Linked DNA regions of Homo sapiens. The protein of the gene in region 1 interacts with the protein of each later gene in a biochemical or structural test. Each region holds a gene or a part of one and is shown in the gene's direction. Other genes may lie near its edges.

Evidence for each region. The genes of interacting proteins can lie anywhere in the genome.
Region 2: the proteins of GRB14 (region 1) and FGFR1 form a complex in vitro, tested with the Homo sapiens proteins (one study listed by BioGRID).

Annotation. Positions count from the first base shown.
Region 1 is NC_000002.12:164,523,945-164,527,599, reverse strand, and holds part of GRB14 (growth factor receptor-bound protein 14), read left to right. Parts: intron 1-464; coding exon 465-586; intron 587-2,521; coding exon 2,522-2,596; intron 2,597-3,655. UniProt on the Homo sapiens protein: Adapter protein which modulates coupling of cell surface receptor kinases with specific signaling pathways. Binds to, and suppresses signals from, the activated insulin receptor (INSR). Potent inhibitor of insulin-stimulated MAPK3 phosphorylation.
Region 2 is NC_000008.11:38,413,512-38,416,662, reverse strand, and holds part of FGFR1 (fibroblast growth factor receptor 1 isoform 1 precursor), read left to right. Parts: intron 1-602; coding exon 603-793; intron 794-1,761; coding exon 1,762-1,884; intron 1,885-2,033; coding exon 2,034-2,104; intron 2,105-2,373; coding exon 2,374-2,511; intron 2,512-2,639; coding exon 2,640-2,745; intron 2,746-2,858; coding exon 2,859-3,035; 3' UTR 3,036-3,151. UniProt on the Homo sapiens protein: Tyrosine-protein kinase that acts as a cell-surface receptor for fibroblast growth factors and plays an essential role in the regulation of embryonic development, cell proliferation, differentiation and migration.

The DNA of each region.
Region 1 (3,655 bases):
TAAATGCACATGAACCTGTCAAAATTCTTCATCTCTTAATGAGGTGAATTGTCCAACCTTGAAATAAATACTTTAGTTTTGGCACCATGATGAGTCAGAGAAAAAAATAGTTCCCATATACTTAATGCAGATGTGTTATCAAACTTATATTATTTACACAGTAATAAAAGGAAATTGAGATAACAAAAAGTACATTATGATATTTTATACATTTTTTTCTTTCTAGACAACAGTCTGCTTTGGTATAAAAATGAACATTAGTAATTGAAAATTGATGACAAATTTTATCAATCTGGCTATCTCATAATTAAGTTGAAATCTGCTATGTTTAACAAAGATGCGTAATACATTTTATATGTTTGTATGTGTCTGTGTGTGTATATATATATATATATATATATATATATATATATATATATATATTTGTCTATCTGTCAACATACTCATTGAAACATTCTTTACAGAAAGAACAATAGAAGACCACGAACTGGTGATTGAAGTGCTATCCAACTGGGGGATAGAAGAAGAAAACAAACTATACTTTAGAAAAAATTATGCCAAATATGAGTTCTTTAAAAACCCAATGGTAAGTGAAATCCCTCCTAATAGTTACGGAAAATAAATGAACCCGTTAAATTTTATGTGAAGAAGATAGTCACTGTAAATAAAATACAGTCCTATTCGGTAAATTGTAGATGAAGACTCTGGTCCTTTGAAATTATACCCATATTTCTTATGCTAACAATGATTAGTGAACATTATACACAGAAGTTCAGATACACAGGTGCAAAACTTTTTAAAGCCGTATTGGTAAAGTCTGAATTGAGATGAATTTGGTTTATTTAATTTAAAAGTATTAGGAAACCTAGTTTTGCCTTTTGTGAAAAGGTAACAATTATACATTTGATGTGGGAAATGAATTTCTATAGGTTCTCACCCAGATTAGGAACAAGTGTTAAGCAAAATATTATATCTTAACACTTTCTATAGAATTTAGGAAATTTAAATAGCTTTCTAAAGTAAAAGCAGACTAATGATTGTTGAGAGTATTATAACTTAGCCAGAAATTAAGATTGACATGAATCTTGCTATTCCAAATTATTTTGTTTTCGGTGCAGTAATTTTTGAACTAAGTAGAAATGAGATAAAGACCAGTGCATTATCTAGTAAATACTACTTTCATTGTAGTTCTCTTTAAAAGAAAATAAATGTGTGTCACATTCTAATGAAGACTAGGGATCTAGAAAAGTCAGAATAGCCTCTGGGCTCATTATTTTAAATTGTTTTTGTCTCTGCAGCTGAAGCATATTTTTACACTAAGTTTTGGATGATAATTGGATTGAAATGATTCTTTATGAAAAATATATGATACACACCATAATAGAATATTTTCAAACCCTGAAAGACCTCTCACGTTGTCTTTTATCTTAACCTATTAATAGAAACATAATGGGATGATCTTTGGCAAAGAAAATTAGTCATAATAAAAATTAAATAAATTCAACTGTGAAGAGAAAGTGTTTCTTTTTGTTGTGAGTCCTTATTAAAGACAAGAATTTAAAAAGATATATTTAAAGAAATATTGTTCAATGCTTGTTTTTTATTTATTTTTTATTTAAACAAGGCTGGACATTTGTTTTGTAGACCTATTGCAGTGGTTCTTAACTGGGAGGTGATTGGACAATGTCTGGACACATTTTTGGTTGTCACAACTGGCAGTAGAGGGGAGGGCTGCTAGTGAGCAGAGGATAGGAATACTCTAAACATCTATAATATGCAGGAGTGCCCCCCCTCAACACAGAATTATTAGACCAAAATGTTAGTAGAACTACTGTTGAAAAACCCTGTCCTAGAGGAAATATAGTAGAATATATTTTCCCAAACTTGTCTAATCATAAAATTTACTGAGGGGAGAGTGCTTATTAAAAACATAGAATCCAGGACTTGCCCGGATCTACTGAATCAGAAACTCCAGGAATGAGGCCTGGGAATTCCTATTTTAAACAACTGCCCTGGGTGAATTTTATGATTAAAAAGTTTGGAAAAATGGTAGGTAGAAAGAACTGGACTTTTAGCTCCCAGCCCAGTTTAAGTCCTGACCTCCACTGTGCTGTGGGCTATGACCTTGGGCATACCCTAAACTCTGTACTTCTGTGAGCCTGTTCCTTGTAAAATGTCATGGATAGTCCTTTTGACCTGATAGGCTGGTTGCGGGACTCAGGAATAAGATGTGGGAGCAAGCACATTGTCAACTTCAGGGCAGTGTTTTATAACTCCAGATACTTGAATCCATCCACATCAGCATTATCTGGGGGCATTTGCTAATCTTTGTGCCCAACTCCAGACATTCTCATTAAGGTACCTATGAGTAGAGTCTAAGGACGGGCATTTTCAAAAGCACTTTTGGGTGAATTTTAGTCACACCAGTTTAAAGAACTTTTGCTTTTGATTACTATATTGGTCATAATTGAATCTTTTCTAGCATGAATTTTGTGATAATTTAACTGTGTCTTTTTGACAGTATTTTTTTCCAGAGCATATGGTATCTTTTGCAACTGAAACCAATGGTGAAATATCCCCCACACAGATTTTGCAGGTAAAATATATTTTTATTAACATATATAAATAATAGCATAATGAAGGAAAACTTTTAAGTCCTTTTTTATACATGCCCAGATTTTGAAAAGTTATGCTTTGAATTATTATTAATATTTTTTGCTGGAGGTAAAACTAAAAAAAAAATGCACCCAGGCAAAGAATGTCCTAAATCAATAAAGCTCTTTAACAATATTCTTCTTCCCAGTTTTAGCCAATTGTCAAAGGATTTTACATATTTAAAAATGTGTGTCTTAAAAGGAAACTTGCAATTTTGTTCTGTGATGTGTGTAAATATTATGTTAGTCTTTAGAAAAATCAGAATTCTTTGTAAAATACAGATATCTTACCAATAGATACTCAGTATCAGCTTTCATAATAAACACCCTCAATCCTATTTGTAATAAAATGTTTAGCAAATAAATGAAAGGAGATAAAAGATACAGGATGCAAATGTATTCACTAGCGTTTGTAATAGCTGTTATGGAAATCCTTGCATAGAATTGTGAAATATTCTTAGCTGAATTAAGAATACTAGTTATCTAATTAAAAATCTCCTTATTTTTGTGTCTATTGGACTCATTTCTTCCAAACTGGCAGTGGCTTGAAATGGTTATTTTCAAAGACATTGTCATTACAATAAATGAATAATTTCAGTTATTTTCTTTAATTTTCGATAGATTTGTAGATTTTACATCAGAAGCTCTACAGTTGTTTTTTACAGGTTAATGTTGAGCAATGTCTTTATAATGGTTGCCGTTTGAGCTCAGCCCCATGCATCCCCAAACCCACTCAGTATCCCCTGATCTTTAATGAAGACAACTTTTAATATTTCCAGTATTGTTTGACCTTAAAAATATTAGGTTGGCAGAGCTATCATGGATTTTTCTGTGGGCTTTTTAATAGGTTATATTTCATTTTTGTGCTTCAGAATATTTTTGAAACATGATTAGTCCCCAGAGATTTTTCTAAAAGCTGCTTCTGTGCTCCTGGGTTTTTACAGAGACACCCTGTCAAAATGTTAGGTAAATGGCAGCAGCAGCTGTGCCCCAGGACTTTC
Region 2 (3,151 bases), on another chromosome or scaffold:
GCCAACAGGTGAAACCCCATCTCTACTAAAAATACAAAAAGTAGCCGGGCGTGGTGGCGCATGCCTGTAATTCCAGCTACTCGGGAGGCTGTGGCAGGAGAATCGTTTGAACACGGGAGGCGGAGGTTGCGGTTAGCCGAGATCGCGCCATTGCACTCCAGCTTGGGCAACGAGCAAAACTCCATCTCAAAAAAAAAAAAAAAAAAAAAAAAAATTAGCCAGGCATTGTTCATGCCTGTAATCCCAGCTGCTTGGGAGGCTGAGGCAGGAGAATCACTTGAATCCAGAAGGCAGAGGTTGCAGTGAGCCGAAATTGCGCCACTGCACTCCAGCCTGGGCAACAGAGTGAGACTCCATCTCAAAATAAACAGACAAACTGGGGCTCTTACCCCAATGTTGCTCGGGAATTTTCTGGACTATGCTGGGAGTAATTATTTCTCTGATTTTTTTTGGGTAGTAGAATGGATTTCCCAGGTCCCCTAAGAGGAGGCAGGAGATGGGAGGTTGGCCGGGGTGTGCTGCTGGGGGTGGGGTTTCTTTGAGGTGAAGCCAAACCTGCTCACCTGCTGCTGGCCCCATGGCCTCTTCTCCTGTGCCTGCAGGTCCCTTGTATGTCATCGTGGAGTATGCCTCCAAGGGCAACCTGCGGGAGTACCTGCAGGCCCGGAGGCCCCCAGGGCTGGAATACTGCTACAACCCCAGCCACAACCCAGAGGAGCAGCTCTCCTCCAAGGACCTGGTGTCCTGCGCCTACCAGGTGGCCCGAGGCATGGAGTATCTGGCCTCCAAGAAGGTGTGGAACCTGAAGGCTCCCCTGGGTAATGCCAGGGTGGGAACAGAGCCCCCCTAGTCTTCCAGCCTGTGACTTATCATCTTGTGGTGGCGTTGTGGATGCACTGAGCACTGGCCCTGTGTGCCCTGTGTGTTGTCTTAGGCTCTCTGGGAACTGCAGAGTCAGGAGCACCAGTGTAGCCAGGTGGCCTTGGGGTCAGACTGATGCAGGGTCCGATCTGTGCACTGCCACTTTCTGCGTAGCCTCAGGCAGCTACTTAGCATCTTAAAATTCTTCAAATACAAAATAATAATAATATCAGCTGGGTGCAGTGGCCAAGGCGGGAGGATTGCTTGAGCTCAGGAGTGTGAGACCAGGTTGGGCAATATATTGAAACCCCGTCTTTAAAAAAAAAAAAAAAATTAAAAAATTAGCTGGGTGTGGTAGTGCGTGCCGATAGTCCCAGCTACTCGGGAGGCTGAGGTGGGAGGCTAGCTTGAGCCCAAGAGTTTGAGGCTGCACTGAGCCATGATCACACCACTGCACCCCAGCCGGGGCGACAGAGCAAGGCCCTGTCTCAAAAGAAAATAAAGTATAACAATACCTGTTGTAGAATTGTTATGAAGATAAAATGAAACTGTCTGTGAGTGTTGAGTGCAGTGTTTGGTGTGTAAGGGCTGGCCTGGTTTGAGCCCAGCCCCATGTGGACTTGCTGTGCTGGGAGGCAGGACCTAGGAGCATGCATCGCTGCAGACGCAGCAGAGGCATAAGGGGCCAGTCTTTGGGGAAGGAAGGGAGGAGCGCTTGCTGTGATGAGAAGCCTGGAGCTGGCAGAGAATGTTAGAAGAGGGAAAGCAAAGGTTCGGGGGGCAGAGCAGTGTGGCAGAAGTTCTATGAGACAAGTCGGCTAGTTGCATGGGTGGCGGCCGCCCAGAGCCTTCCAGCTCCCTCACCTCCCCGCCTCCCGCTCTCCCTTCCTCCTTCCTCAGTGCATACACCGAGACCTGGCAGCCAGGAATGTCCTGGTGACAGAGGACAATGTGATGAAGATAGCAGACTTTGGCCTCGCACGGGACATTCACCACATCGACTACTATAAAAAGACAACCAACGTGAGTGCCGACAAGGCCGCCCTGTGCTGGTGGTTTCATCTGAGAAGCAAGGAGTGGGGTGGGCTGAGAACCCACCCCCCAGTCCCTTCCCACCTGTGCCCTCATGGCCCTGCCTGGGGCCACTCCAACCTCCCCTGTGCTGCTTTCAGGGCCGACTGCCTGTGAAGTGGATGGCACCCGAGGCATTATTTGACCGGATCTACACCCACCAGAGTGATGTGTGAGTTTGTAATAGCAATTGCCAGGGAGGTGTGGGATAGAGAGCTTCTAGCACTGTAGAGTCCTGCTTTCTCCCTGGACTGAGGAGTCCTCTTTCTGCCCCAGAGAGAAAAACAAAACATTGTCTGTGGCCATTCCCTCTGCTCCAGATGTTGAAAGGCTGATCTGTTCTCCATGCTGTCTCCTGGCACTGCCCTGGGTAGAGGATTTGTGCTGGGGGAGGGGAGGCGGAGAAGCTCTAACACCCTGTGGCTCTCCGCCCATTTGCAGGTGGTCTTTCGGGGTGCTCCTGTGGGAGATCTTCACTCTGGGCGGCTCCCCATACCCCGGTGTGCCTGTGGAGGAACTTTTCAAGCTGCTGAAGGAGGGTCACCGCATGGACAAGCCCAGTAACTGCACCAACGAGCTGTAAGCCCGAGGAGATGTCGGAGGCCCTGAGCCAGGCCTTGGGGCAAGAGTGGGCTTGAGGGGCAGGGGGCTAGACTAGAGAGTATCCATCTCCAGGAGACGTCCCTGACCTTACAGTCCTGCCGCAGGTACATGATGATGCGGGACTGCTGGCATGCAGTGCCCTCACAGAGACCCACCTTCAAGCAGCTGGTGGAAGACCTGGACCGCATCGTGGCCTTGACCTCCAACCAGGTAAGGCTGCCCGTGCCAGAGCCAGAGCTCAGGCCGTCCCCACTGCGTGCACGCACCTCCCTGAGCAGGGAGGAGGGGCCCGGCCCATCGCTGCTTCCTCTCGCCCATCACAGGAGTACCTGGACCTGTCCATGCCCCTGGACCAGTACTCCCCCAGCTTTCCCGACACCCGGAGCTCTACGTGCTCCTCAGGGGAGGATTCCGTCTTCTCTCATGAGCCGCTGCCCGAGGAGCCCTGCCTGCCCCGACACCCAGCCCAGCTTGCCAATGGCGGACTCAAACGCCGCTGACTGCCACCCACACGCCCTCCCCAGACTCCACCGTCAGCTGTAACCCTCACCCACAGCCCCTGCTGGGCCCACCACCTGTCCGTCCCTGTCCCCTTTCCTGCTGGCAGGAGCCGGCT